2 separate regions of the Homo sapiens genome follow, and region 1 is linked to region 2. Evidence: fine-mapped expression QTL. A gene starts in region 2. The other region holds a variant in brackets. All regions are shown on one strand. Distances are between the middles of the regions. Region 1 overlaps LOC124907901 (a long non-coding RNA gene). Region 2 holds the start of DAPL1 (death associated protein like 1).

Region 1 (16,357 bases), 52 kb after region 2:
TTTGCTATTGTGAATAGCCCACAATAAACATATGTGTGCATGTGTCTTTATAATAGAATGATTTATAATCCTTTGGGTATATACCCAGTAATGGGATTGCTGGGTCAAATGGTATTTCTAGTTCTAGGTCCTTGAGGAATCACCACACTGTCTTCCACAGTGGTTGATCTAATTTACACTCCCACCAACAGTGTAAAAGCGTTCCTATTTCTCCACATCCTCTCCAGCACCTGTTGTTTCCTGACTTTTTAATGATCACCATTCTAACTGGCATGAGATCATATCTCATTGTGGTTTTGATTTGCATTTCTCTAATGACCACTGATGATGAGCTTTTTTTTCATGTTTGTTGACTGCATAAATGTCTTCTTTTGAGAAGTGTCTGTTCATATCCTTCACCCACTTTTTGATGGGGTTGATTTTTTATTTCTTGTAAATTTATTTAAGTTCTGTTTTTTTTTTTTTTGAGACAGAGTCTTGCTGTGTCACCCAGATTGGAGCACAGTGGAGCAATCTTGGCTCACTGCAACCTCCACCTGCCCGGTTCACACCATTCTCCTGCCTCAGCCTCCCAATTAGCTGGGACTACAGGCGCCCACCACCAATCCTGGCTAATTTTTTTGTATTTTTAGTAGAGACAGGATTTCACCATGTTAGCCAGGATGGTCTGGATCTCCTGACCTCGTGATCCACCTGCCTTGGCCTCCCAAAGTGCTGGGATTACAGGCGTGAGCCACCGTGCCTGGCCACTGTTTAAGTTCTTTGTAGATTCTGGATATTAGCCCTTGTCAGATGGCTAGATTGCAAAAATTTTCTCCCATTCTGTAGGTTGCCTGTTCACTCTGATGATAGTTTCTTTTGCTGTGCAGAAGCTCTTTATTTTAATTAGATCCCATTTGTCGATTTTGGCTTTTGTTGTCATTGCTTTTGGTGTTTTAGACATGAAGTTGAAGGGGCCATTCACGGTGGTTCACACCTGTAATCCCAGCAGTTTGGGACGTCAAGATGGGTGGATCACCTGAAGTCAGAAGTTCAAGACCAGCCTGGCTGATGTGGTGAAACCCCTTCCCTACTAAAAATATTAAAAAATTAGTCAGGTATGGTGGCAAATGCTTATAGTCCCAGCTACTCGGGAAGCTGAGGCAGGAGAATCACTTGAACCCAGGAGGTGGAGGTTGCAGTGAGCCGAGATCACACCACTGCACTCCAGCCTGGGTGACAGAGAGAGACTCCGTCTCAAAAAAAAAAAAAAAAAAGTTGAAAGTAGGCACAAGCTGCCAGGGGAGCCAATTCTGTGCATTTTTTATTTGACATTGCAGTAAAAGCTTGCAGAGAAAGCTTTCTACTCAACATCAGTGTCTTTTTTCTTTTAAGTCTCCAGAGAAAATGACTAACCAGGAAAGATTTTTTTTAAACTTGTTTTCATTTTCCCTGGGCCAAACTAAGTATTCCTGAGAGAAAACAAACCTTCCCAAGGAATCCAGACTTGGCTCATGATATCTAATACTGAGTGAATTAACATTTTTTTCCTACCAAGGGGAGTAGAAAACAGCCTATAAGAGAATTCATGTTGGTTCCTAGTTAATCTTTAGCTTTACAGTGAGTTAAGCTGTCTTTTCTCCTTAATGATTTAAGTATCCCATACTAAGCTTTCCTGTCAAATAAACTAAAAGTCTGGTTTTATTCTGTTTGGAAGTTTGTAACTAAATATTTATCTATGGTCTGAAGAAAGAGGGAAAAGTCAAGTCGGTTGTGATAGAAAGTGTTTCCACACCCATCAGCAGAAAGTGTTGAAAATGGTGCTATAGTTATTGCTCTAGTAAATGCTCAAGTCTGCCAATGAAGGAGGATTTATTTGTTTTTCCAACAATGCCCACTTAATTTTCTCTAATTTTTCTTCTACTTTGCTAATCAAGGCTTCAGCATGATCAGAGACTGCATTGGATCTAATCTAGAAATCTGTGGGGTGAGGGAAGCCCTTGAAAGCAAGCAGTGGCGGTCCTTGATAGAATGGAGTGAGTCCTCAATTATCTATGTAGCTAGAAAGGGAAAGGTTAGTGAAGAAAACCGCAGATAATATAGAAATCCTTTTTATTTCTTTTGGCTTCTCATACACACACACACACACACACACACACACACACACACACACACGTTTATATCACACAGCAATGTGCCATGGTTGCAGGTTGTTTACCGGGTCCGGAGGAGGATTTTGCCAGGACTGCTTTCCTTTCTCCTTGGAATCTTCAGAGAGGGGAGAGAGGGTTGTGTTGGGATTTGGGGGTTCTTCGGGTGAACTTGAGAGAACTGCTAAGTTCTCTTGAGTAGAAAGGTTTATATTACACTTTAAACCAGGTAAATTATTTTCCTATTGTTGCTGTAACCAATTGCCACAAATATAATGGCTTTTAAAAACACACATATTGGATATCTTACAGTTCTGGAGATCAGATGCCCAAAATGGGTCTTGCAGGCTAAAATCAAGGTGTTGGCAGGTCTGTGTTCCTTTCTGGAGGCTCTAGAAGAGGATCTATCTTCCTGCCTTTTCCAGCTTCTAGTGCCACATGCATGCCCCATTTTCTTTTCTTTCTTTCTTTTTTTTTTTTTTTTTTTTTTTTGAGACAGAGTCTTGCTCTGTCTCCCAGGCTGGAGTGCAGTGGTGCAATCTTGGCTCACTGCAACCTCCACCTCCCAAGTTCAAGCAATTCTCCCACCTCATCCTCCTGAGTAGCTGGGATTACAGGTGCACATCCCCATGCCCAGCTAATTTTTGTATTTTTAGTAGAGATGGGGTTTCACCATGTTGGCCAGGCTGGTCTCAAGCTCCTGACCTCAGGTGATCTGCCCGCCTCAGCCTCCCAAAGTGCAGGGATGACAGGCGTGAGCTGCCGCCCTGGCCTCATGCCCCCATTTCCAACAAGCATCACTCCAACTCCTGCTTCTGTTATCATGTGTCCTTCTTCTGACTTTGATCCCCTTGTCCCTCTTCAAAGGACACCCGTGAATAAAGCAGGCCTACTGGACAATCTGTATAATCTTGCCATGTCAACATCTTAATTTAATCATGTTAGCAAAGTCTCTTTTGCCATGGAAGGTAACATAGTCACAGATTTCAGGGCTAAGAACGTAGACATTGTTCAGGCTACCACACCAAGACCAGCCAGGTTTTCTCAAACCTGGGGCTGATCCTGGTCTTCAGTCACCAGAGCAAGTTTAACCTGGGCTAGGGCTTTTAGGGGTTCAGGCTACCGCAGCACACCATAGCACCTTCTGCTAGGTCCTTCACCCACTTCATGGCCTGCTTCTGGCTCTAATGCATCCAAGCAGCTGGAATGTAATTAAGCAGCTGTGGGAAAGAGCTCTCAAGTCACTGCAAAATACTTGTAGCCTCAGCGTAATAGATATGGTGAATAAGCATAAAGGGCAACATAATGAAAATGTATTTCTATTTTTGTCTCCCACTGTCTTTTTTTTTATTATTATTATTTTTCTCAGATATTTACTCTGAGAACCTGGTTGACCTCCAGCAGGTAAAATTCACAAAAGTAACTGGGTCCCTCTGGAGTTTTCTTCTCAGACTTGTTCACACTGAGCCTCCAGCAGGTCATCAATTACAGTTCTGGTTTCCCTGCCTGGCATAGGTTCCACTGTCTTTTTAAAACTTGTTCAGGGAAGGGGTGATCCTGCCCCTGCCTCCATGAGTGTAGGCCTCAACTGGGAGCACTGTTAATATTTCAAGCAGGAGAGTTCTTGGGTTACTGGGATATCGAGCATCTCAGGCCCTTGTCCTCTAAATGCCAAGAGTATCCTCCCTGCCAATCATTGTGTCAATCAAAACACACTCCAACATATTTCTGAATGATCTCTAGGGAGGTGGTACTGCCAGAAAACCTGGGCAGCCCCATGACTTCGTTCATTCTCAGGTCCTCAGGGAGTAATTGTTTCATGGTCCCAGCAGGTCTTTACTCAGCCATTAGAATACCTGATCCAGTGTGAAACCCAAAACTCCCAGGGGTTTAGGGCTGCTGTTGGGGAATATCCGCAGGAGGGAAGGGAACTTTCAAAGTTAGCCCACTCCCTCATCCCTGCTTACTCACCTGAGTGGGCAAAACTGGGGAAACGGAATCAGAGAAGTTTCTGAGTTTCTTATTGATGGCTTGATCACAAACCACTTTTTCTTTTGTGGAAAGTTTTGTGGGTTTTTAGAGTCCCATCACTGAGAATGCATCCACCCTCAAGGCCATGCCTGCTTGACCCCTGGTTCCGTGGTACCCCACCCCATCCCACACACAGGCCTCACCCCCCTCTAGGGTAGGGAGTTCAGAAGTCAGGACACTACTTCTTCATTCTGCGTATGGCAGCCCAGAGGCTCACTTTGGAATATCACATCTATTGCAGCTTGTTACCTAGTGGAAACTTCCATTTTAACATTCTATTGTAGTCAAGAATTAAGATAATTATTTCAAAACAAATCATTTACAGCTGATTCTTCCATGACTGAGGACCTCTGGGTGTCTGAGTTTCCACAGCATTGTCAAGTACATACAACTCACTTTTATAAGCTAATAACTTTCCAAACTGAATTTTGAAGACAATACTTGAAATGCCCTTTTGTCTGGAAGAATGTGTAAGACATTTTTTTTCTCCAGTTTTGACTCTGTTCTCATTGTGATGAATTCTGAAAGCTTTCTTAACCTTGCTGCTTTATTTTCCAGTCCCCTCAAAATGGAGGTTTGGGGACCCACAGGTAACTTCTCATTCATGTTGTTTTCTGACTTTAAAAAAGCATTTTAAAATGTTTGGAACATAGAAGAGTGAATGACTCAAATCTGATGAAAATATAATGACCTGTTTTGCTTCTACATGTAGCATTTCACTGCTTACAACACATCTACACATAGATTTTCTTTTTTGATTTTCTTTTTAGATTTTCTTTTTTGAGGTAAAGAGCAGGCAAGTCCTATTTTATAGATGAAGTGTTCACAGTGGACAAATAAGTAGGTATTATTATCATCCCCAAGAAACTAAGGCTCAGAAAAGTTAAGCAATTTACCCAAAGTCACACAGCCAGTAAGTGTGCCCTCAAGATACATGCCCTTCTTGCTGTGCCATACATCTAGCCTTCTCTCTTGAACTAGAACCTGATCAGTTGCTCATAAAACACTTTAATATTCACCCTATATGGGAAAGGAAAGGTTTGGGTCTGTCTGTTTTATTGAATGTTAATGCCAGCAGAAAGCCAGATGGCCAAAAGGAGTAGTCTTTTATGGTTCTCAATTTTGGCATTGAAGGGCAAGTGAAAAGGAACATGAATTTGAGGAAATAGCAGTGCAAGTCTTCCCACGAGGCATCACAGGTCTTTGTGAAATGAGTACTTTGGGACCAATCAAGCCAAGATAAACACTGAATCATTTCAAGTGAGACAAACACAATCCCCGTGTCTCTATTTTGCTAATTAGGAGCCCAGAGCACAAAGCTCACAGGACTGGTGGTGTCAGATTAAATTCTGGAGCATTCCCATAAACATTTCCAGAGACCTCCCCTGCCCTTTGTCAACTGCACATTAAACAGCTTTCTCAGCCCAAGGGGCCTCTTCCTTTGCAGACCTCCTGCTGGGTGAGACCTTCTACCGAGGATTTCTCTCTTTACCTTTAGTTTTTGGAAAGCCCTTAGCTCCATTTGTTACAGTTATGTTCTGCCTGAGTACTCAGACTTCCCCTAGTCCTTTGTACCTGAAGTTTTATAGCTCTTCTTCACTCTTCTACCCTGTCTAGCACTTCATAAAGCTGTGTTCTTTGTTGCCTTTATGTACATTCAAATACTACTACTATCCAGGCTTTATAAATCACTGAGTTGTGGAAACCAACTGTGTAATGCACATTCAGATGATGATGTTTTACTGGTCACAGGAGATTCTTAAGGGCAAAGTATTTAGCATTAGCACCCAAAGTGGCAAAGACTGGTTAATACTACTCAGAGGACCCTATCTAAGAGATTGAGGTGGTGATTATAATGGGGAAGAAGTAAAAAAAAGACAAGGTAAGCTTCAAATATCCACAATTCCCCACAAGGAAACCTCTCTTCTCTGAGCTCTATAACATCACTTCAAAGCAATTTTACAGCATAAATTATTCTGGTCAGTATGATAATAATAACGTCATGCCCTTCAGAGCAATTGATGATGGAGTTTTTCCCTGGGATCATGGAAAAACTCATCCCCAGTGGCTATTCACCATCAAAGTGGGTAATATACAGACTTGAGGTTTACAGAAGCAGGTCTGCATTATCCAGGGATGGAGTTCACGCCAACCTGAGTAGCGGCTCTTTCAGGTTGTCAGCGAAAAAAGCTTAAATATCCTGTTTTCAAATTCCAACAGTACCTAACCCGTCCACGTTGTTGGGGTTGCTGCCAGCTGAGGACAGCTGGTTCACCTGATTGGACCTGAAAGGTGCTTTCTTTCCTATCAGCTTAGCCCATGAGAGGCAGAAGCTGCTTGTCTTTCAGTGGGATGATCCGGAGTCAGGTGTCACTAGTCAGTACACTTGGACCGGGCTTCCCCAAGGGTTCAAGAACTCCCCCACCATCTTCGGGGAGGCGTTGGCTCGAGACCTCCAGAAGTTTCTCACCAGAGACCTAGGCTGCATGTTGCTCCACGAGGTTGATGACCTTCTGCTGGGACACCCCACTACAGTGGGGTGCGCCAAGGGAACAGATGCCCTACACCAGCCCATGGAGGACTGTGGGTATAAGGTGTCCAAGAAGAAAGCTCAGATCTGCTGACAGCAGGTACGTTACTTGGGATTTACTATCCGACGGGTCGGAACACAGCCTGGGATCAGAAAGAAAGCAGGTCATTTGCAATCTATCGGAGCCTAAGAGCAGAAGGCAGGTGAGAGAATTCTTAGGAGCTGTGGGGTTTTGTTGACTGTGGATCCCAAACTTTGCAGTAATAGCCAAGAATTTGTATGAGGTCACAAATGGGGTGGGGACTGGGAAACTTTGGAATGGGGATCCCAACAACAGCAAGATTTTCATGAGTTAAAGGAAAAACTTCTGGCAGCTCCAGCCCTGGGGCTACCTGATCTGCCAAAGCCTTTTCCATTGTATGCATCAGAGAGAGAAAAGATGGCAGCTGGACTTTGAACCCAAACTGTGGGGCCCTGGCTGAGGCCGGTGGCCTACCTCTCTAAACAACTAGACGGGGTTTCTAAAGGATGGCCCCCCTGTTTGAGGGCCTTGGCAGCAACTGCCCTGCTAGGACAAGAAGCAAATAAGCTGACTCTTGGGCAAAACCTGAACATAAAGGCCTCCCATGCTGTGGTGACTTTAATGAATACTAAAGGACATCGTTGGCTAATGAATGCCAGGCTCACCAAGTACCAAACTTTGCTCTGTGAAAATCCCCGTATAACCATTGAAGTTTGTAACACCCTACACCCTGCCACCTTCTCCCGGTATCAGAGAGCCCTGTCGAGCCTGATTGTGTAGAAGTGTTGGACTCAGTTGACTCTAGCAGACCTGACTTCCAGGACCAGCCTTGGGCATCAGTAGACTTGGAACTATACGTGGATGGGAGCAGCTTCTTCAACCCCCAAGGAGAGAGAGGTGCAGGGTGTGCCGTGGTAACCCTGGACACTGTTGTTGAAGCCAGATCGTTGCCCCAGGGCACTTCAGCCCAGAAAGCTGAACTCATTGCTTTCATTCGGGCCTTAGAACTCAGTGAGGGTGAGACTGTCAACATTTACACTGATTCTTGGTATGTCTTTTTAACCCTTCAAGTGCATGGAGCGTGATAGAAAGAAAAGGGCCTATTGAACTCTGGGGGAAAAGACAGAAAATATCAACAAGAAATCTTGCAATTATTAGAAGCAGTATGGAAACCCCACAAGGTGGCAGTTGTGCATTGCAGAGGACACCAGCGAGCTTCCACCTTGCTGCGTTTGGGGAATTCGCGCGCTGCCTCAGAGGCTCGAAAAGCAGCATCTGCCCCCTTCCGGGCATCAGTGCTCCCTCAAGCACTTGATCTTGGACCTACTTCTTCTAAAGAAGAAAAGGACTTTCTCCAGGTAGAGGGAAGGACAAGTGATGCAGGAAGGATGGATTCGGTTACCAGATGGGAGAGTAGCTGTGCCACACTTGCTAGGAGGTGCAGTTGTACTGGCTGTGCATGAAACCACCCATGTAGATCAGGAGTCACTGGAAAAGTTGTTAGGCTGGTATTTGTACATCTCGCATTTGTCAGCCCTTGCCAAAACGGTGAGGTAGTGGTGTGTTACCTGCCGACAGCATAATGCGAGGCAAGGTCCAGCCGTTCCACCCGGCATACAAGCTTACGGAGCAGCCCCCTTTGAAAATCTCCAGGTAGACTTCACAGAGATGCCAAAGTGTGGAGGTAACAAGTATTTACTAGTTCTTGGGCGTACCTACTCTGGTTGGGTGGAGGCTTATCTAACACGAACTGAGAAAGCTCATGAAGTAACCCCTGTGCTTCTTTGAGATCTGATTCCTAGATTTCGACTGGCCTTACGGATCGGCTCAGATAACGGGCCTGCGTTTTTGGCTGCCTTGGTACAGAAGACGGCAAAGGTATTGGGGATCACACGGAAACTGCATGCCGCCTCCCGGCCTCAGAGTTCCAGAAAGGTGGAGCAGATGAATCGGACTATCAAAAATAGTACTATTGTCTTCCCCGCTGGATATTTAAAACAACACCACAAGCAAGGGGCGTCAAACCATCTGCTAAATTTGAGGGAATGTTATCCTCTCCCCACTCCCCTGGCCCCAGATATTAGAGACAATAACACAGGGGTAATGTATACCCACTGCTTTATTGAGAGTAATATCATCCTCTCCCTTCTTGGATATTAGGAACAACATTACATTGTGCGTGAACGCCTGTCCCGAAAATCAATGGAATGTCATCCTGTGCCTCCATGGATATGACGAACAATATCACAGGGGATGTACAACTTCTAAGATATTGGCAGTGATATCATCCTCTCCCCTCTGGAAGTTAGGGACAATATCACAGGGGTAGTGTACAGCCTCTGGGATGTTGGAACTAATATCATCCTCCCGCCCACTGGATATTAAAAACCATATCACAAGGGGCGTGTACACACACTTTGATACTGGTATTAATACCATCGTCTCCCTCTTTGGATAATCCGTGCCATATTTCAGGTGGGGTATACACCACCTGCAATATTGGAAGTAATATGATTTTCTCCACCCCCCGGATATCAGAAACAATATCACAGGGGGGTGTCAACAACCCCTGCGATATTTGCAGTAATATCATAGTCTCCTCTTATGAATATTAAGAACAATATCGTAGGGGTGGGGGGTGTACACCCCCTTTCATATTTGATATCATCCTCTTCCCCCCTGGATATTAGGAACAATATCAGGAAGGGATGTACAGATCCTGCGAACTTTGCTGTCATATAATTGTCTCTCCCCTAGGTATTAGGACAAATGTCACTGGGGATGTGAACAGCCCTGCGATATTGGGAATAGTATCATCCTCTCCACCCTTGCATATTGGGAACAACATCACAGGTGGGGTGTACTGCCTCTGCGATATTGGGAGTAAAATTTTCCTCTCTTCCCCTGGACATTAGGAAGGGTATCAGAGGGGGAGGGTGTACATTCCCTGCGATATTCAATGTAACATTATCCTCTCCCTCCCAGGGTAATCAGAACAATAGGACAGGAGGGATGTACACCCCCTGCGATATTGAGAGTCATATCATCCTCTTTTGCTCTAGATATTAAAAACAATGTCACAGGGTTATGTACACCCCCTGCGACATTGGGAGTAATATCATCCTCTCTCCTTGTAGATATTAGGAAGAGTATCACAGGGCTGTGTAAACCCCCTGCGGTATTGGGAGTAATATCATCTTCTCTCCCTCTGGATATTAGGAAGATTTTCACAAGGGTGTGTACTCCCCCTGCGATATTGGCAGTAATATCATCCTCTCCACCCAGGAAATGACTAAAAGGTCACGGGGGTTGTACTCCCCCTGT[G/A]ATATTGGGAGTAATGTCGTCCTCCCCAAACCTGGATGTTAGCAACAGGATCACAGAGGGGGTGTACACAGCCTGCGACATTGGAAATAATAATGATCCTCTCCCCACCTGGATATGGGGAAAGATATCACAGCGCGGGTATACATTTCTGACACTGTTGGAAGTAATATCATTCTTTTCATTTCTGGATATTAGGAAGAATATCACAGGGGTGCTGTACAATTACTTCGATATTGGGAGTAATATCATCCTCTATTTTCCTGGATATTGGGCCCAAAAACACAAAAAGGTGTACAAACCCTGCGATATTGGGAGTAACAGCACACTCTCCTTCCCCGGATGTTAGAAAACAATATCATCAGGGCTGAACACCCCCTGCGAAAATGGGAGTCATATTGACTCTTTCACAGGCCATTTGGAACAATATCACAGGGGGTGTTTACAAACAGGGGTGGTGTACACCCCCTGGGATATTGGGAGTAACATCATTCTCTCCACCTCCGGATATTAAGAACAATATCCCGGCAGGAGGTGATACACCCCCAGTGATATTGGGAATAATGTCATCCTCTCCTTCCTGTATTCGGAACAATATCACAAGGGGGTGTACACCTTCCATGATATTGGAAGCAATATCATCCTCTCCCTCGCTGGATATTAGAAAAAAATATCACTCACGGTGTACAACCACTGTGATATTAGGAAGAATATTACAGAGTGTACACCCACTCCGACTTTAGGAGAAATAGCTCCCTCAAATGTCACAAATAATTCCACAGGGTATACACTGATATCTCCCTAGGATATTACAAATACTATCACAGGGTGTACACCCACTGTGATAACAGGAGTGATATCTCCCTAGGATATTACGAGTAACATCACAGAATGTACACCTATGGTGTGCACCCACGGTGACATTAGGTGTAATATCAAACCAGGACATAACCAATAAGACCACAGGGAGTACATACATGATGTACACCGACAGTGATGTTACGAGAACTGTCTCCCTAGGATAATACGAATAACATCGCAGAGTGGACACACATGGTATACACCCACTGTGGCACTGGGACTAATAACTTTCTAAGATATTACAAATAGCATCACAGAATAGAAACACATGGTGTACACCCACTGTAACACAAGGTGTAATTTCTCCCTAGGATATTACGAGTGACATCTCAGTGCGTACACACATGGTAAACACCCACTGTGACATTAAGGGTAATATCCCCCTAGGATATTACCAATAACATCACAGGGTGTCCACCCATGGTGTACACGCTCTGTGATGTTAGGGATAATAACTCCCTAGGATATGATGAATAATACCACAGGGTGTACAGAAACTGTGATATTAGAGGTAATATCGCTCTAGGATATTATGAATAATATCACAGGGTGTACATCCACTGTGATACTGGGAGCAATATCTCTCTAGGATAGTACAAATAATATCACAGAGTGGACACCCACTGTGATGTTAGGAGAAATATCTCTCTGGGATATTACAAATCATATCACAGAGTGTACACACGTGGTGTACATCCACTTTGCTATTAGGAGTAATATCTTCCTAGGACATTACAAATAACATCGCAGAGTGTACACCCACTGTAATATTAGGAATCGTATTTCCCTAGGTGATTACAAATACTATCACAGGGTGTACACCCACTGTGATATTAGGAGTAATATCCTCCTAGGGTATTACAAATAATTTCACAGTCTGTACACACATGGTGTACACTCACTGTGATATTAGGAGTAATATCTACCTAGTGGATAACAAATAACATCGCAGGGTGTACACCCACTTTGATATTAGCTGTAATATTTTTCTAAGTTGTTACAAATAAGATCACAGGGTGTGCAAACATGGTGTACACTCGCTGTGATATCAGGAGTCGTATCTCCGTAATATATTATGAATCATATCACAGGTCGTACACCCACTGTATTATTAGGAGTGATATCTCTGTAGGATATTACAATTAATATCACAGGGTGTAGAGCCACCGTGATATTAGGAGCAATATCTTTCTAGGATATTACAAACAATATCACAGGGTGTACGCTCACTCTGCTGTCAGGAGCAATATCTCCCTAGGATATCAAAAATCCTATCACAGGGTGTACAATCTCTGCCTTCCAGGTTCTAAGGGATTCTCCTGCTTCAGCCTCCCGAGTAGCTAGGGTTACCCGCCAGCACGCCCGGCTAATTTTTTTTTATTTTCACTGGAGACGGGGTTTCACCACGTTGGCCAGGCTGGTCTGGAACTCCTGACCTCAGGTGATCCATCAGCCTCGGCCGCCCAAAGTGCTGGGATTACAGGTGTGAGCCATGGCGCTCGGCCAAGAGTTATATATTAAATTCATTTGGAAACACAGCTCCCATATTTGAGTGTGCATGTACTTCTATGAAGAAATGATGTCAGAAAACCTAAGGATGATAATAAATATGAAAAGTAACAGGCATGTGAAAAGGTGTTCCGATTGAGAACTCTAAGGTTCGATTTCGTTTTTAGATAATGGGGTCCTAGCTCTTGTGTCGTCCTTTTACATATTCTACGTCAAAGGAATTTGTAGCACGGTGTCAGAATAAAACAGAGTGTATTTCACGGCTTCTTAATTTCTTTCAATTAGACTGAGATCTTTTTCTTAAAGAGAGAAGGACATTTTCACTGCATTGTATTTTTTCTGAAAAGAGTAGGCCGTATTTTACTGAGATCACGGATTTGGTCTTCTAATATTCTTCAGTGGATTTTCTCTAAAGTAGTATGTACAGAAAGACTTGTATAGCAAAAAAGTAAACCACGTAATAATTCTGAGATTTTTGGATTTGTCACAACTGAGAAACATTGCTGGCGGTGTATGGTCCGCAAGTGTGAAAATGTTCCTTGTGAGTTGCTCGCATCCAGCATTAAGGGCTGGTTTTTATCTTTTATTTTTCCAATCCTCTTTCCTTCTCAAGGTGTCCAAGACACACGGAGCCACGGAATCTCACAGGTGTCTGAGAATTCCTCCTCCTGGGACTCTCAGAGGATCCAGAACTGCTGCCGGTCCTCGCTTTGCTGTCCCTGTCCCTGTCCATGTATCTGGTCATGGTGCTGAGGAACCTGCTCAGCATCCTGGCTGTCAGCTCTGACTCCCCTCCACACCCCCGTGTACTTCTTCCTCTCCAACCTGTGCTGGGCTGACATCGGTTTCACCTCGCCCACGGTTCCCAAGATGATTGTGGACATGCAGTCGCATAGCAGAGTCATCTCTCATGCGGGCTGCCTGGCACAGATGTCTTTCTTGGTCCTTTTTGCATGTATAGAAGACATGCTCCTGACTGTGATGGCCTATGACAGCTTTGTAGCCATCTGTCACCCTCTGCACTACCCAGTCATCATGAATCCTCACCTCTGTGTCTTCTTCGTTTTGGTGTCCTTTTTCCTTAGCCTGTTGGATTCCCAGCTGCACGGTTGGATTGTGTTACAATTCACCATCATCAAGAATGTGGAAATCTCTAATTTTCTCTGTGACCCCTCTCAACTTCTCAAACTTGCCTGTTCTGACAGCGTCACCAATAGCATATTCATATATTTTGATAGTACTATGTTTGGTTTTCTTCCCATTTCAGGGATCCTTTTGTCTTAGTATAAAATTGTCCCCTCCATTCTAAGGATGTCATCGTCAGATGGGAAGTATAAAGCCTTCACCACCTGTGGCTCTCACCTAGCAGTTGTTTGCTGATTTGATGGAACAGGCATTGGCATGTACCTGACTTCAGCTCTGTCACCACCCCCCAGGAATGGTGTGGCGGCGTCAGTGATGTACGCTGTGGTCACCCCCATGCTGAACCTTTTCATCTACAGCCTGAGAAACAGGGACATACAAAGTGCCCTGCGGAGGCTGCGCAGCAGAACAGTGGAATCTCATGATCTGTTCCATCCTTTTTCTTGTGTGGGTGAGAAAGGGCAACCACATTAAATCTCTGCATCTGCAAATCCCGCCCCTTAGTCACATTCTTTTTGTGGCTTGATGGCTTTTATTCCTTTCTGCATTTCCTTTGTGAATATTGCTTTCTTCGTTATGCCTTTAACTGGAATGGGTCAGTATTCTGGGATCCTCTGTTTAGCAGGAACCTCATGACAGAATCCTCTATACCTAGGCGGCCTCTTTTAGTTTCTGAGCAATAACCCTGTCATCCAGGTGGAATCACAACCATCTTTTTATATACACGAAGTCCTCTCTTCATTTTGGAATTCCCTGAAGACTGACTTTATGGAAACAATGTACAGGAGGTCCTCCAACACCACTGGTTGTTCAAAGTTGTGTAGTTATACTGTTGATGAAAAATAAGTGGTTTCACTATACATCATTTTGCTTCAAGGTGAAGTTTCCAAGAGACTTTCAAAGATGTTAAGTGAGGACATACTGTAAATCAAATTCATATCCTCTTCCAGAGTTCATGTGGAATTTCTTTATAAACTGCTTCTAGAGAATCGATTTAGGCAGGTTACGTGTAGAGATCCAGGTCGCCATTCCTCAATCTTGGCTTTGAGTCAAATCACCTGGGGAGCTTACAAATGGTGAGGCCTGGGTCTCAATACCTGAGATTCTGATTTCCTTGCACCTATGTGAGTATGTGGATTTTTTTTTTCTTTTAAACCACCGGAGGTGGTTCCAAAGACGAAGTTTTCAGAGGCATCAAGCTCCAATGAGTAAGAACAGAAATTAATTGTGATATGATTTCCTCATATATTACCTTCAAATGCGTTGTCCATCAACAGCATACAAATGTTTATTATGCTGTTTTTTCTTACCATTTCGCATTTTCTATTTCTTTCTTTTCCTTTCTTTTCTTTTTTTTTTTTTTTTCAAGTCAGAGTTTCACTCTTGTTGCCAGGGCTGGGGTTCAATGGCAAGGTCTCGGCTCACTGTATCCTCTGCCTCCCGTATTAAAGCAAGTCTCCTGTCTCAGCCTTCCAAGTAGCTGGGATTACAGGCGTGCGCTACCATGCCCGGCTAATTTCTTTTTTTTTGTATTGTTAGTAGAGACAGTGTTTCTCCGTTTTGGTCAGGCTGGCCTTGAACTTCCGACCTCAGGTGATCCGCCCGCTTCCGCCTCCCAAATTGCTGGGATTACATGTGTGAGCGACCGCGCCCAGCCACCACTTAGCATTTACATTTTACATTTGTTGAAGTTATAGATTTATACACACATTGATTGCTGCTTTGTTATACACTTGCATATACCTAAGATGGGAAATAGAAAAGAATAAAATGGGCACAGTATCCCTGAAGTTTCACATTCCGAGACATTTTAAAAATATTTGCTCTTTAGAAATTTGTTTCAGTTAAGGAACTGTGGTATACACACCCAATGAAGTATTATTCAGCCTAAAAAGGAAGAAAATCCTCTCTGCTGCAGACAAAATGGATGAGACTGCGTGTCTGTATATTAAATGAAAGAAGCCAGGCACAGAATGACAAATATTTCATGTCCTCACTTCTATGTAGAAAGAAAAAAGGAAACCTTGGCCAGGTGTGGTGGCTCAGGCCTGTAATCCCAGCACTTTGGGAGGCCGAGTCGCACGGATCACTTGAGTCCAGGAGTTCGAGACCTGCCTGGCCAACATGGTGAAACCCCGTCTCTACGGAAAACACAAACAATTAGCCGGGCGTGGTGACGCGTGCCTGTAGTCTCAGCTACTGGGAGGGCCGAGGCCCAAGAAGCGCTTGAACTCGGGAGGCGGAGGTTGCAGTGGGCCCGGATTGTGCCTGTGTACTCCAACCTGAGCAACAGAAAGAGATGCCATCACACACCTACACACAAAAGGAATCTCAGGAAGGTGGAAAGTCTAAAGGTGGTTAGCAGACGCTAGGAAGAAAAGGGGTGGGATGGGGAATGAAGAGAAGGGGATAATTGGGTCCCAAAATACAGAAAGATGGAATAAGTGAGTTCTAGTGTTTGACAGCACAGTATGAAAATTTTAGTTCACAAGAATTTCTTGCATATTTCCAGATGCTTTGGTAAGAAGCTTCCTAACTTTCTCCTTATGCTGGTTTTTCAGCTATTCTCTTTCTGCTCTTGAAATCATGCTGGTTTTTTTGTTTTTGGTTTTTTGTTTTGAGACGGAGTTTTGCGCTTGTTTCGCAGGCTGGAGTGTAATGGTGCAATCTTGGCTCACCGCAACCTCTGCCTCCTGGGTTCAAGCGATTGTCCTGCCTCCACCTCCCAAACAGCTGGGATTACAGGCATGCCCCAGCACGCCCAGCTAATGTTGTATTTGTAGTAGAGATGGAAGTTTCTTCCTGTGGGTC
Region 2 (16,357 bases):
CTTTTAAGCCCAAGGACCAAGGGAATGTTTTCTCCATAATCACTCCCATGATCCCACCACACACACCCCACCTATAATACATATAATGGAGAAACAGCAGAGAAAATACTGAATGAAATCTAAAGAGAAAGCAAACACTTAAACAAATGGATATAGACTAAAGGAAAAAACTAGAGTAAAAATGTCTATAAAGACTGCATTTTATATAAATTTCCAGCTCTAGTTTTTCCTTTAACAGGAAAGGCAGGGAGGGTCCTTGGCAGAGAGAAGAGGGAAGCAGTTAGTGAAGTAAACACTGGTCCAAAAAAGTCACATCTTGGCCCACAAAAGGCTGGCCCTCTTTCCAGGTATGTCTTTCCCATGGCCTAGTCTGGCTATGGTTGGAATTCATTTCAGAATCTTTGATACCTGAAACATCTCAACCCATGGAAAGGGTACAAAACCCTGTAACAGATAACTTACTAGCATCCGCTGCTCAGACAGTATGCTGTCCTTTAGCTGTTTTATTAGTGGTGCATTATACAGCTTCCTGGCATGACTTTTCAGATGCCCAATGCGGGTTTCAAGCTGCTGGACAATAATAAAGACTGGGCCGACAATGGATCAGTAGCAGCTTCTGATCTTTCCACTGCCATCTTGTTATGTTTTACGACTAATTTACCTCTCTTTGTTTCCTTTTATGGCCTTTTCCCACCTGTAAAATGGGGTCAGTAAATTTTGGCTTTATAGAAGATGTGGAAGGTAGGGAATTGCAGAAATTTGTGTTTTAACTAATCTCGAGTGTATTTCTAAAAGTAAAGTGAACTATTATTATCTTCCAATTAAGTTTATTTGCCTCTTGGCTCCAACACTCACCACTAAAACTTCAAGACCCCAAGGCAAGAAAAAATGTACTCTTCATTGTTTACCTTGTTATCAAGATTGGCTAACTTCTAAACTGTGTTTCTATATTCCTGCACACAGAATTGTGATTGTTTTGTTGCTGGGGGAATCCCTATACATAAAAGTGTCTATCTGCATGATAACTCGGAAGAAAGATCCTTACACACCTCTCCAAATTATTAATGGATTCTTTGTTTCAGGTCCAGCAAATGGAGAGAGAAAACAATGAGTGCTTTCTGCTAAAGAATACTAGGAATTAAAAATGTCCTCGGATGAAAGGAAAATCCCAGTGTTTTGGAGAGAGGGAAGAGAAAGACACACTATATCTAAAAAACAGACCAAAAAAGCTGGTAAGCACAGTTTTCTCCATAATGTAACTCCCATAATACCGCACCCCCCAACACACCCCACCTAGAAAACATATAATGGAGAAACAACAGAGAAAATACTGAATGAAATCTAAAGAGAAAGCAAAGCACCTAAACACATGGATATAGACTACAGGGAGAAACTGGAGTTAAAATGTCTAGACAGGCACTGGAAGCTCAGAGACATCTTACAAAACAGGAGGCAAGATGCTTTGGAGAGGGCTTTCTCTAAACCACCTGCTATGGTTTGAATGTCTCCTCCAAAACTCATGTTGAAACTGAATCGTCAATATGCCAGTATGGAGAGGTGAAGACTTTAAGAGGTGACCATAGGGCTCTGCTCTTCTGAACAGATTGATCCATTCATGGATTGATAGGTTAATGGGGCCAGGTGCAGCCTGTAATCTTAACACTTTGGGAGGATGAAGAGGGATGATCACTTGAACTCAGGAATTTAAGACCAGCCTGGCCAACATAGAGAGACCTCATCTCTACTAAAAATTTTTTAAAGATTATCTGGGCATGGTGGCACACATATGTAGCCTGCGCTACTTGAGAGACCAAGGCTTGAGCCCAGGAGTTCGAAACCAACCTGACCAACACGGTGAAACCCGTCTTTACAAAAATGATAAAAATTAGCCAGGTGTGGTGGTGCACACCTGTAATCCCAGCTACTCGAGAGGCTGAGGCAGGAAGATCACTTGAGCCCAGGAGTTTGAGGCTACAGTGAGCCATAATACAGCCACTGCACTCCAGCCTGGGGAATAGAGCGAGACCCTGTCTCAAAAAAAGGGTTAATGGTTATCCTGGGAGGGGAGCTGGTGGCTTTATAAGAAGTGGAGGAGAGGCTGGGCATGGTGGCTCACACCTGTAATCCCAGCACTTTGGGAGGGCCAAGGTGGGCAGATCATCTGAGGTCAGGAGTTTGAGGAGTTCGAGACCAGCCTGGCCAATATGGTGAAACCCCATCTCTACTAAAAATACAAAAGTTAGCCAGGCATGGTGGCACATGCCTGTCATCTCAGCTACTTGGGAGGCTGAGCCAGGAGAAACTGCTTGAACCTAGGAGGCAGAGGTTGCAGTGAGCCAAGATCATGCCAATGCACTGCAGTCTGGGTGATAGAGTGAGACTCTAAAAAGAAGTGGAGGAGAAACCCCGAGTGAGCAGGTTAGCTCTGTGCCGCCTTGGGACTCAGCAGAGAGTGGGACCCCACCAGCAATAAGGCTCTCAGCAGATGCATGCCCTCCACCTTCGACTTCTTAGCCTCCATAACTGAATACTGTTTTTTGTTTGTTTGTTCTTGTTTTGATACAGGGTCTCACTCTATCCCTCAGGCAGTGGCGAGATCTTGGCTCTCTGCAACCTCTGCCTAGTGATCCTCCTGCCCCAGCCTCCTGAGTACCTGGGGCTACAGGCATGCGCCACCACACCTGGCTAAATTTTTGCATGTTTTGTAGAGATAGGGTTTTGTCACATTGCACAGGCTGGTCTCAAACTCCTAGACTCAAGCAATCCTCCAGCCTTGACCTCCCAATGTACTGGGATTACAGGCATGAGCCACCATGCCCAGCTGCTTATTTTTATAAATTACCAAGTTTCAGGTATTCTGTTGTAAGCAATAGAAAACAAATTAAGACACCACCCCACCACCTAAGAGTCACCACCCTCCCAGTTAGCTTTCTTGCCCCTGATTTCTAACATAGATTTCTCATACTTTCAGAACTTAGCATAAGGTACAGCATGTAACTAATGTTAAGAGAAAAAAGAAAATATAAAAATTAGATGCACCCTGCAAATATACAGGTGCATGAGGAAGGTAATGTCTCCCACATACAAATTAAAAGAAGAAAGTGCAATACTACGATGAAAGTGTTGTATGATTTTAAAATATGATTAATGTTAAAGCATCCTTTCATTTTAAGACAGAAAGCTCTCTGGCAACCTCAACGTCGTGAGAATCCATTTTACTAGGCTTTTTGCATTACAAAGCACAATTTCAAATACTTTGGTCCTAGCATGAACTGCTCTCCTGTTGCAGTTAACTCGACTGATGCCATTTTTAAAGTGAGCTTTATAAGCCCATTTAAAGAGTAATAACATGTTGTCTTCTTTCCATGAGACTTTCACCCTGATGGAAGCTCCAGTATGTCCCCAGAGTAAATCACTTGGGCTCCACTTACCTCACAGTGTACAAAACAGGCCTGGGCTTTTCATGACGAACATAAAGAGAAGGCAAGGGAAGACCCCACCCCACTTTGGGGCTGCCCTGTGCTCCTAAGCACACACAGAGGGAGACAGAGTTGGGACCCTGGGCCTCCTCCAGTGGAAGCAGAAAGAGTGGCAGGGCAGGAAGGCTGTGCTGGGCGGGGCCCAGAGGAGGCCACATTGGCCTCATTTTTGCTTTTGCCACTTACCTTTTACCATCACCCTGTGGATACCACTACTCCCGTTCCCTTAGATCAGAATTTTCCAACTTGGATTTCAAGAGCACAAATTCTTTCCTCCCTTCTTTCTTTCCTTCTTTCTTTCTTTCTTTTTCTTTCTTTCTTTCTTTCTTTCTTTCTTTCTTTCTTTCTTTCTTTCTTTCTTTCTCTCTTTCTTTCTTTCTCTCTTTCTTTCTTTCTCTCTTTCTTTCTTTCTTTCTTTCTTTCTCTCTCTCTCTCTCTCTCTCTCTTCCTTCCTTCCTTCCTTTCTCTCTTTCTTTCTTATTTATTTATTTTGAGATAGGCCTTGCTATGTTGCCGTTGAATTCCTGGGCTCAAGCAATACTCCCAACTCAGCTTCCCCAAGTAGCTGGGACTCCAGGTGCACAACACCCCACCAAGCCAAGAACACAAATTCTAGGGGGTTTTTGTTGGTTGGTTTCTGTTTTTGAGACAGGCTCTCAGTCTATCGCCCAGGCTGGAATGCAGAGGCATGATCTTGGCTCACTGCAGCCTTGACCTCCTGGGCTCAAGCAATCCTCCCACCCCAGCCTCCCAAGTAGCTGGGACCAGAAGCGTGTGCCACCACTCCTGGCTAATTTTTGTATTATATTTTTTTTAGAGATGGGGTTTCTCCATGTTGCCCAGGAGGCTGGTCTCTTAACTTCTGGGCTCAAGCAATAGGCTGGCCTCAGCTGCCCAAAGTGCTGGGATTACAGGCGTGCACCACCAATCCTGGCCCTCTAAGGGTTTTTTTTAGGGCCATGAGAACGAACGTTTTCATGATGAAAAATGCTCTGCGGATGCTGCCTACTAAATCCCCCTGGGGAGGGTCACAATGTACATCTGTGAACTGAAGGCTTTACATGCGAATGATGTGAAAAGAAATCCTGTTTAACATTACTTCATGGATAAATCGAGTATTTGCCCCAAAGAAGCCTTCTCTGCTTGGGCATGCATTATATTCTGGTCCAACCACTCATTCCTCCACATCACTTAGGCTGTCCTAGGTGCAGGCTCTCCTAAGGGGTGGTTGCCCTTTGATTTCCTCCTTGCCTTTTGCACTTTCGCAGCTTATAGATATAGAAGATAACCAATAAAATCTGGTACCAAACAGTCACACATCTAGGCTTTATGCTACCTACCTATGCTGTCCAATACCAGAGTCACATGCCACATGTAGCTATTCCTATTTCTATTAATTAAAACTATTTAATTTTAAATAAATTAAAAATTCAATTTTTCAGTTGCACCAGCCACATTTCAAGTGCTCAAATGAATGTGTGGCTTGTGGCTACAACACTGGTCAGAGCAGATACAAACATTTCCATCTTCTCAGAAATTTCTGAGGAATAATGCCACAATAAACCTTGTCAATCATAGAAGGAATTCTGTTAACCTTCTCATCATGTCCATATCCGCATGAGAATGTGAGATCGCTGAAAGCAAGAATGAGATTTTCTCATCTCTGAACCCCAGCTCCTAGTCCAGGGCCCTGCAGGAAAGGCCACTCACAAAATAACTGCTAGATGATATGAATGTTTCCTCTTTGCTCCCAAAAATGTGCCAACCTTTGTCGCAACACTTTACCATACTTTTCCCTCAAAAAAAACTTTTATTAGTTTTTATTTATTTAAAAAGTAATACAGAATACTGAAAGAAGATTTAAAAATCCACATGTAATACTCCCACCTACAGAATGCCACTCTTAACATTTTGGAGTATTTACATTCATTTATTTACAAACAGATTTTTTGTCATTTGTTGAGGCATATTTTGCATATGGTAAAATTCACCCTTTTAAGGTGATGTGTGTATGACGTATGATGAATGTAACAACCACTACAATCAAGATACAAATTATTTCCATCACCCTCAAAAAGTCACCTCCTCACCTTTGTAATTAAGCCACTCTCCCCAACCGCTCTCCAGCAATCACTGATCCAATTTCTGTTCCTAGGGTTTCAACTGTTCAAGAATGTCATGTACATGGAATTATATAGGAAGTAGCTTTTTTTAGTCTGGGTTCTTCCATTTAACGTGTTGCTTTTGAGATTCATCCATGTTTCCCTTTTTATTGCTGAGTTATATTCTATGATATAGATACACCACAATCTGTTTACCCATTCTACAGTTGAACTTCGGAGTTGTTTCTAACTTTTGGCAATCCTGATAGAGCTGTTATAAACATTTGCACATAGGGTTTTGTGTGTACATATGTTTTCATCACTCTTGGGAGAATTCCTAGCAATTGGATTGTTAGTCATATATAGTAAGTGTATGTTGAATTTTATAAGAAACTGTCAAACTGACTTCCAGAACACCTTTGCTTTTTTGCGTTTCCCCCAGCAATGTATGAGAGTTTCAGTTGCTCTGCGTCTTCACCAGCATTTTGTATTTTCCTTTTTTTTCTTGTCTTGAGCCATCCTAATACATATGTAGTGGTATTTTATTGTGGCTTTAATTTGCATTTCCCTAATGACTAATGATGTCGAGCATCTTTTTGTGTGATTATGTGTTGTCAATATCCTTACTTTGTAATGTTTTATTTGAATCTTTTGCCCATTTTTAATTGGGTTGTCTGCTTTCTTATTATTGAGTTGTAAGAATTCTTTATACATTCTAAATGTCGGTACTTCATCAGAAATGCATTTTACAGATATTTTCTCCCAGTTTGTAGCTTGTTTTTATTTTCTTAACAGGGTTTTTCGAAGAGCAGACAACTGCTCTTCAAGTTGTTTTTTAACTGTACTGAAGAACAAAGAAATTTTTATAAATATCTGCCACATGCTAAACTTTTATTGGCGCTGGAATTACAATAATGGCTAAGCTTAAAGTTGTATTTTTCCTTTTTAGCAAAATTGGCATTGATTGGTTTCTTGTCTACTTTTTCACTATCTTATCGTTAATATTTCTACATCATTAAATATTATTTGAAAACATGATTGTAAGGTATACTCTCACAGTGATTTCTTGATTCATCTTAACTATCCCTCTGTATTTGGAGATGTTTATCTTGATTCCCATCAATATTTTAAAAAGAAAAGAAGCATATGATTCCCATCCTTGCGCAGAAATCTCTGTATACATTTCCAATTATTTTCTTAGTATAAATGCTTATAATTGCAAAAACTGGGACAGAGGCACAGGACTTTGCTCTATACCTGTCTCTTTAGAAAGACTACAGATGTCCTGAAGCAAAGAGCTTGTCTTGGCCCCCTTGTCATGCCAGAATATGACAAAAGCCTGTTACATTGCAGGTGCACTATACACACTTGAGGGATCAACGGTTGGAGAGAAAAAGAATTCCACTGAACTCCATCCTCTCCCTTTCCTCCTGTGGAAAAAAAAGAAAGAAAAGAATATCCTGTCTCCTGCAGACATCTACCTTGCCTTCCCAGATGAAGGGAAGAAGAAAGTCTTCTTCTAAGAGAAAACTTGCCAAGGAGATGCAGGTTTCCCAGAGAGCTGGATGACAAGCCCTGTTGCTGCTCAGCAATGCCCTTAAGGGGCCCTGCCCCCTGCCTTTATAAAGCCGGTGCGGTGGTGGGGCAGCCACAGCTGGCATTCAGCCTCCAGAGCACCAGCACTGGCACTGGCACTGGCACACGCTATGGCAAATGAAGTGCAAGACCTGCTCTCCCCTCGGAAAGGGGGACATCCTCCTGCAGGTAGGCTGCCACCTGCCCTCAGTCCTGCAGGCTGTTGCTGCTCCCCTCTTCCACCAATGCCTTCCATGGAGCACCCCGACAGACGGAAGCTTCTCTGTCTACCCAGTATGACTTTAACTCCATGCAGCCTGACTTCCTCTTATGTCTTTGATCCTTCTTAGCTTGTATGTAAATCCACCCGGGGATTTGTCAGACCCCCAGTGAGTTAAAACCTAATTACCTACGGCAGTGTATGGATTTGGGGCTTGTGGAAAGGCATAGGTAGAGAGGTTGCACCTTTCCTCCCTCGAGGCAGCATTCCTTTCACGGGGCCCTGGCTGTAGATTAGCAGTGACACATCTACACCAGGAAGATGATTTGCTACCATGGAAACCTTTCTCTTTAGAGGTTCCAGCTGTAAGACTCAGTCTCCCCAAGATGCCTGTGCATCATGTGACTTCCTACCCAGGCAAAGCAGCTTCTGCACAGAGGACAACAATCACATTTCTTTCTCCCTCCTCAGGCTTTGGGGATGTATTTACCTGTCAACAAGCTGAGAAGTACTTTTAAATAAAGACACAGGACTTGAGGAGGCTGACTGGAAAAAGTAGCTGTCAAGGTGTTTGCAAAGCATCCATAGTTGTCTTTTTTTTTAATTTATGCTATCTATATTGACTCTCTGGAATATGGAAATTAGTTTTATTGTACTTAACCATATGTTCATATAGATTGGCTGAGGTGTACAGGCCTATTTTTAGTCAGTTTTATATTCTTCCAACTGCCTTCCTTCTTTTTTACTGAAGAAAGAACTCAAAAGCTTGACTGCTTTGTTCTTGCCTTTCTCCATTTACAAAAACATATTTACTGTCTAATTCTCTGGCACCTCTAGGCCAAGGTTATTTCAATAATCTTTGCTGCAGAGGGTGATGGCGGGTATTGTCTTCACAGAGAGTCAAAATGTAACATTGTTTTGGTGGCTTTCCGGCGGGTAGCCTGGCCAAAAAGAGTCCAGATTTTACTACTCATTCTGAGTTTCCAGCTCTAGACATCTTGGTCTGATCTCCTCTGGTAGATTACTGATGTTTTATATTTGTAATCAAATTTAGCAATATTTAACATTACCTATATTTAAAGTTAATTATGCTAGCTAATAGTCAGGAAGTATATATGCAAATCATTGGAAGACAGGCTCCTTACATAGACAAAGACAAAAGAAAAAAGAACTCCATTCTCATTATGTTGTTTCCACTCCAACCCTTCATAAAATGGCTAAGATGAAACCTGTTTTGCTAAACTACATTTATGCACAAAGAACACAGACATAAACTTAACCAAATGAAAGTTCGAATGAAACCACCGGGAACTTTCTGTCCCCACCACTAATGATTGCTAATTACTCTGTGTACATAGCACACCATGACTCCATCAAGCATGTCACAATGCCTCTGGCATGACAATTAATTATTATGAACTGTGACACTACAGATAAGAGGTTTTGGATAATTAGAATGGAGATGAAGGCAGACTTTTGCCTCCCCACTGAGCACAAGGGAACAAAGAAGTGTCATCCTTCAGCCTGTCTTGCCACTAATTTTAAGTCTGAATCTGTTTGTGGTGGTGCAAAATTTTATTTATGGAACAAAAACAAGTGCCAAAATTCTGTTAATTTTTCACTTGATTTTTATAAGCAAAATACAGATCCCTAAAAGTGGGAAGAAGATACGATTCGGTGGGGAGGGTGGGACATACATAGCCTTTGGAATCAGACAGACCTGGGTTTGAACCTCAACTTCATTTCACATCTTCGAGCCTGAGTTTCCTCATCTCTGAAACAGGATGCAATAAATAACATCTATCTAGTAAGTTTGTTGTAATGATTAAAAGAGATCACCTCTGTAAAGTATCTGGCACCTGAATGTTAGCCCCCTTAAAATGCAGGCCCGGTAGAACACATCACTATCAAAAGAAATTATCCTCCCCAATTTCAAGACATCCTGATGCTGGAGCGGCATTAGACACTACTGCAGTAGTTGGAACAGAAAGAAACTGCAATGGAAAAAATATGTGCCTATCCCATCACAGTTAAAAATGAAATCACTCAGCTGGGTACAGTAGCTCACGCCTGTAATCCCAGCACTTTGGGAGGCCGAGGTGGGTGGATCACCTGAGGTCAGGAGTTCAAGACCAGCCTGGCCAACATGGTGAAACTCCATCTCTATTAAAAATACAAAAATTAGCCGGGCGTGGGGCATGTGCCTGTAATCCCAGCTACTTGGGAGGCTGAGGCAGAAGAATCGCTTGAACCCAGGAGGCAGAGATTGCGGTGAGCAGAGATCACGCCACTGCACTCCAGCCTGGGCAACAAGAGTGAGACCCCGTCTGAAAAAAAAAAAAATCACTTAGAAGTCAGCCTGCTGCATCTCTTTCCTACCTATCTATGGAGCAGTCAATGGTTTCACTTTAATGTATATTAATATAATATATTGCATCTCTGATAGCCCTAGTTATACATTTATGCTGTGAAATGAGACTACATAAAACACAAGGTGGCCTGGGCTCCAGTAAGAAGAACTTGGAATTTTCTGCTTTTTTGATTTGTCTCACCCTCACTTTCAGAAGAACCCCATTATATGAACAGCAGCACCAAAAATGTGTGAGTAGAAGTTGACCCCAGGAAGCCAGATATATGATGAATAGAAAGAAGAGCAGTGGTTCATGACTTTTTCTATATTTCCTGCACTTTTTAATTGGGTCTAAGCCAAATGAATCAGAGCCATTAGAGGTGTTGCCACTGAATCCCTAAAGAGAATATGTTTTCTGACTCATTAAAGAGAGAAGGAAGTTGGAGGGGGAGTATGACCAATTGTAAAACTAATGCAGAAAATGGGGGACAACCATAAACTGCATATGGACCACGGTCATTTGAAAACCCTCACACACTCCAAAGGCTTGAATCTCTCAATTCCATCTGCTCAAGTCAACTTGGGGGCATTGGAACAGGACAGAACCATGAAGTTAGAAGAGAGAGGCTGTGAGATTCACCTCCTCCTGCCCCAGGGGACAGGGATTTGAGGACTGCAAGAACAGCTGCCATTCGCTCAATGCTGACTGCACCTGGCACAGCAAAGAGACTTCTAGACGTGGCAACAGCCCTGCAGATGGGTGATGTTTCACGGAAGAGTGAACGGAGACTCAGTGAGATTGAGGGACTTGCCGAAAGCCACACAGCTAGTGGGAAGTGGAGCTGGAATTGGAAAATGAAGCTGACCTCATGTCAAAGCCCTCTTACTCTAAAGCCTTTTCTGTTTGCTCCACAACCTTCTCTTGATGAGGGTTTTGGGGGTCTTGATTGGCAGCCTAAAATTTCCTGATAAATTAACTGTGAATGCAAAGTGAGCATTTTGCAAACATCTAAACTTTTCATTAAACCTTCAAATAGATGTTCTCATTCACAAGGCAGAGTTTGCACAAACCTTTGTGCCTTTCAGCTTTTTCACATACATTGTCCATGGATTTGTGAAGGAAAAAGCCTAATTTTTTTGCAGGCTTATGTTTATCTTCACTACTCTCTACCAAAAACTGTGAAAAAGATTGGAAAATCTTAGCTGGAAAATTATTATTTAGAATTCTAAACTAACTGATGTATTTTTAAAAATTTATAAACTACAAAAGCAGTCACAAGAGTATAATTCTCATGCAGAGATGGGAAAGCAAAGCTTCATTTTCCCCGCTTAAATTTAGGTTTTCTAGTGAAATTATCTAAAAGAGCATCTCCCTTTTTTACATTGTCTATCTCTAGTTCATCTTCATTATTGAAAGGACTGAAAGTCTTAATTTACATATTTGTACTCAACATCCTGTTAAAATGTTAAATCAGTTCATATTTTACTTTGCCCAATTCCAATTGATCTTTCTGCAAAGGTTCAAAAAGCAGGATAGTCCCAAACATGGAGTTACGTAAAGGATTACAAACTTAAATGGATCGATTTGGATACAGTGAAACTTTGAAAAGGTCTCTTGAGTCAGAGGTATCTAGTATAAGCAAAATGAGCAAGAACCTGATTGTGTTGCATTGTAAATAATGGCTTGTCTAGACCCCAGGAGATCATTGTGATCAGTGTTCCCAGCAGAGATTTTAAGATAACCCTCCCACAAACTGACCCCACCTGGTTCAGTCACCCCAGTGTAGTGACAGCCCAAATCTATATCAGTGCATCCATCTGTAGTCTAGGGATATTATCTTCCGCTTCTTTCTACTGTACATAGATGACTGAGTAAGATCAGCTACCAGAACAAGTTTGGTACAAGAACTCTGTTCTGGAAATCCAATGTGTGTTTCCCTTATGCTTCCGAAATTGCTGAGTTAGAGCCTACAGCCCTATGACAGAGACGATTTAAAGACTGCTGGATGGAAGTAGGAATCTTTATGGGGAGGACTTTTTCTTCTTCCCCCTAAAATGTCTATCTTATTGTTCCTAAGGATGAGGAATTCCCATGTTTATGGTTTAGCTGGGTGTGGTGGCGGGCACCTGTAGTCCCAGCTACTCGGGAGGCTGAGGCAGGAGAATCACTTGAACTCGGGAGGCAGAGGTTGCAGTGAGCCGAGATCGCTCCATGGCACTCCAGCCTGGCGACAGAGCGAGACTCCATCTCAAAAAAAAAAAAAAAAAAATTTGGCATTTATTTCTTTGTTAAATGCCTTATGCTCTTTCCAAAGAGAAAGAAGTGATGGATTTTTTTGAGAGGTAGATGAAAAGAGTTGAAATTATAATAAGGACTTTATAATAAACATAATCTAGTTCAACTTCCACTGAATTCCCCAAAGTTCTCCTAAGGTATTCATGACAAAAGAACTTCTTTCCTTTACTTTAATACACTGAGGTACAAAAAACTCGTTATTGTATTAGGCAATCTATATCATGTTGAATAAGACAAGCTGTTACAAGTAGCCAGACTGTACCTTTCTAGAACTCTTAGTCTTTGGTCTTCGTTCTCACCTCTGGAACCACATAAAATAAATATAAATAATAATTAGTAATTAGTAAGTGCCTACCATGCACCAGGTTCTTATGTCACCTCTATTTTCTGACAGCAATAGTCAGTATTATTCCCCATTGAAGGACGTGGAGACAGTCTGAGAGCAGTTTTAAGTGTCCTACTCACAGTCACAGAGCTTAGGAGGAATAGAGTTGTCCAACCCTACATAACATTTCCTCACCAGTAAACTGCTCCTCTGCCCTCATGACAGCCCTTCAGATCTTTGAAGATGGCTCCCTAAGTTCTCTCGCTTTGCTTCTTCAGGAGTTATCTTACTAGATTCCCTAGTTCCTCATGTAGCATGCCTGCCTTCACTCTGGTCACTCTCCTCTGAAGATTCCCAGATTATCAATGTCCTTCCAAATGAGTGGTACAGAACTCAGCATTCCAAAGATCTTCTTTTCTTTTTTTTAGACAGAATCTCACTCTGTCACCCAGGCTGGAGAGCAGTGGTGCAATCTCAGCTCCCTGCAACCTCTGCCTCCCAGGTTCAAGCAATTCTCCTGTCTCAGCCTCCCAAATAGTGGCTGGGACTACCGGCAATCGCCACCACACCCAGCTAATTTTTGTATTTTTAGTAGAGATGGGATTTCGCCCTGTTGGTCAGGCTGGTCTTGAACTCCTGACCTCAGGTGATCCACCTGCCTCGGCCTCCCAAAGTGCTGGGATTACAGGTGTGAGCCATCGCGCCCAGCCAGTTCTTCTCATCTTTAACTAAAACAATTTTGCTTCTATAGTTGGTAATAATAATTAATCCAGGTAGAAGAAAATGTGTAGGAATAATAGCATCAGGGAAAGCAAAAGGAACACTAACAAGAAAATAATTACAGCACACTATATATGAAAGGCACTTGTCATAAGGAGAATGAAAAATACTGTTGGGAGGTGTATCAAAGGCCCCAGAGCTCTTATCTGATTCTTCTTAGCATTAAGCAACAGTGCTATGAGCAGTCACCATCTCCCATACAGAGGCACACACGCCTCAAACATTCTTTGGGAAAAAGCCCATCCCTTGATTTATTTCACCTGTATTCCATGGCTATTCAGAAATGTTTCCCTATAATTTCATTTTTGTTGCAGATTACTTTGTATGCCATATGCGTGTGTATAAATAATTTATGTATATAAAGAATGTGCATATATATATATAATTTAAAGCAGATAATGTATAAAGATAGCATTTTCTGAGGCTTATATACAAAAATCAATATTTTTTAAACTTGGTAATTCAAATGACCAAATGGAGTTTATTCCATGAATGCAGGAATGGTTGAATAGTAAAACAACAGATCTTAGTGATACAAAACCCATAAGAGATTGACAAGGTCATATAAAAACAGCAAATTTCTGACTGGCAAAAACATTATCAATAAAGTCAAAAAGCAGTAACTGGTACAATATAATATTTTATATTTGCAATGTATCTCATGGAAAAATAGCTCCTATAAATCGGTAAGAAAAAGATAGGAAAAAGACTAGCAATCCAATTGAAAAGGACAAAAGATTTGAACAGCTTACAGAAAAGGAAATGCAAATGGCTTCTAAAACACAGAACCAAGCTCAACCTTTAATAAAACATGAGAAATGAGAATTAAAACAGTGATATACCTTTATCTATTTTGTAACTTACTGGCTGACAAAACCAAACACTTTGTAGCTCGCGTTGTTAACAGGGGTATGGAGGAACAACAACTGTCATCATGGCTGGTGAGATTCTAAACTGGTGCAACCTCTGCTAAGGGCAATTTGGCAAGATTTAACAAAATTCCAAACACGCATACTCTTAAGAACTAACAAGATCACTTTTAGGAATTTCCCCAACAGGTATGCTTGTATTTGTGCAAAATTATGTATCTAAAACTGTTAGGAGAGCAAGAACCTAAAAGAGCCAGAGTGACATCATTTGAAAATCACCTCCATCTTAGAATGAGCGAGGCACATTCCTTGCTAGTCACAACCCCATGATGCTAAGATGTTTACAGCTGAGGAAGCAGCTTGGTAATGCCTGCAAGAACAAACTCTTAGAACCACAGAAAGTCCAGATGGGCCAATACCCATAATGATAATGCTTTCAAGATAGTAACAGTTATGCTTTGATGTACTCACACACCAAATCGTCAAGGATGGTTTTCTTTACATCAGTAGAATAATAAATCTTGTCATGTTGTCTGCTCACCTGCATGTAGTCACAGTTTAGTCTTTACATAGACAAGACCCCTATATAAGAAAAACTGAAAAACAGTGTGTTTGTGCACTCACTTTCTGAGGACACCCTACTCTGTAATGGAATTGTTTCTAATAAACTTGCTTATTTCACTGAGCTCTGTGCCTCGCCTTGAATTTCTTCCTGTGCAAGATCCAAGAACCTTTTTTTGGATTCTGGATCAAGACACCTCTTTCTGGTAGCAAAAGGATATTCATTGCAGCATTGTTTGTGATAGCAGTAGATTAGAAACACATGAAATGTCCAACATTAGGGAACTGGTTAAGTAAACACAGGATGTTCATACAATAAAATGTTAAAGCAGATGTTAAAAAGAAAAACACACAGATGATATATAGAGATATAGATGTAGATGTAAATATAGATTTGGAACTTTCTCTAAAATATGTGATTAAGTGAAGAAAATAAACAAGATGTAGAGCAATGTGTACCTTAGGCTACCATTTTATAAAAAATAAAACCTGAGTGTATGTGTAGAATAACTGTGGATGAAGACACAGGAAGCTTATAACATTAGCAGTATCTTGGGAGATAATCTAGGAAGTTGGAAAATAATTGTAGGAGGGAGACTGCAGACCTTTTTATGGCTTTTGAATTTTGGGCCTTATGCAGATAAGATAACCAAGACAATAAATTAAGTAATAATTGTAAAGAACAATGATGAAGTCAGTTGACAAGGGCACAGAAAAATAGAATACATTTTCTTTATTTTTCACTTTATTGGACCACAGTTTTAGAAAATCGCCAATCTGGCATTTTCATAAAAAGAATTAACAGGCTCAAACAAATCAATGTCCATTTAGCTTTTTCTCATTTGAGCTTGTCAGATTTTAGATGTGCAAATTTCCTGGGAACAGAAAAAAAGCATTTGCTTTGACTTGCTATCTTGAAATGGGTTGTTCCTTTTCAAAAGTTGATTTCATCTGACATTGTTAAACACTTGAATTGCTGTTAGGTCATCTGTAGCCTAATTAACACTAATTGATCACTTGAATGGCAGGATTATTAATGCAGTTTAATTACTCATTAGAACATCTGAGCTTGGCCAACACCGGAGTTTTGGGGTCTGGATGGAAGGTGGGTATCTGGTAGAATCAGAACCATCTCTGTTGAATTAAATGCCTTTTATCACTGTGTGCCCTGACTTTTGGCTCATCTCTCAGAATCTGGCTTTTGAAAGCTTTGGTTGGAAAAAAAAATGCAAGCCACGCACAACTTTAATCTGGTGGGAAAACAGAGGGTCACGTTGTAATTGTCGGTTGCTATTGTGGGGAATGTAATTGGTTTGATAATAAGAAAAAATGTTTTTCAGTGAAATGCCTAAGGGAGTATGTTGTTATTCTCCTCCCCAAATCTAAGGTGTAACCTCTGCTTTTTCAGTCTTGGTTCCACTTCTCTGAGCATAAACAAGTAGCTCTCAGCCCTTCCTCCACCCACACCTGGTTTGCCAATAAAATATATATATTTTTTATTGTGTTGTTTTATACAAACGTTTAGATCTTTAAAAAATAAGTTCAAAAATTATTTTCAAATCTAAAGTCATACCTTTAATAACAAAGCAAGCCTTCTCTCACTGTTCTAACTTCCATGCTGATTTTTATCTGTTTGTAGTAAAAGCTGGAGGAATGAGAATTTCCAAAAAACAAGAAATTGGCACCTTGGAAAGACATACCAAAAAAACAGGATTCGAGAAAACAAGGTAGGGACTCTTAATTTTTCTCCATCACCTTGAGGAGTTTTGAGTGACTCTGCCTCCAGGAGTTATTTTAGGA

What was found.
Region 1: its variant is fine-mapped to the expression of DAPL1 in esophagus mucosa (GTEx, PIP above 0.99).

Annotation. Positions count from the first base shown.
Region 1 is chr2:158,840,578-158,856,934 of GRCh38, forward strand. All of the region lies in intron 2 of LOC124907901 (a long non-coding RNA gene), which reads left to right. It also overlaps the pseudogene OR7E89P. Among named protein-coding and RNA genes, the nearest start is that of DAPL1, 53 kb to the left of the region's middle. The variant G/A (reference allele first, on the strand shown) is at 10,037.
Region 2 is chr2:158,788,086-158,804,442 of GRCh38, forward strand. It overlaps DAPL1 (death associated protein like 1), which reads left to right and starts at 7,232. Exons shown (of 4, transcript NM_001017920.3): 1 at 7,232-7,345; 2 at 16,197-16,284. The coding sequence starts at 7,288. RefSeq lists an enhancer at 4,658-4,827.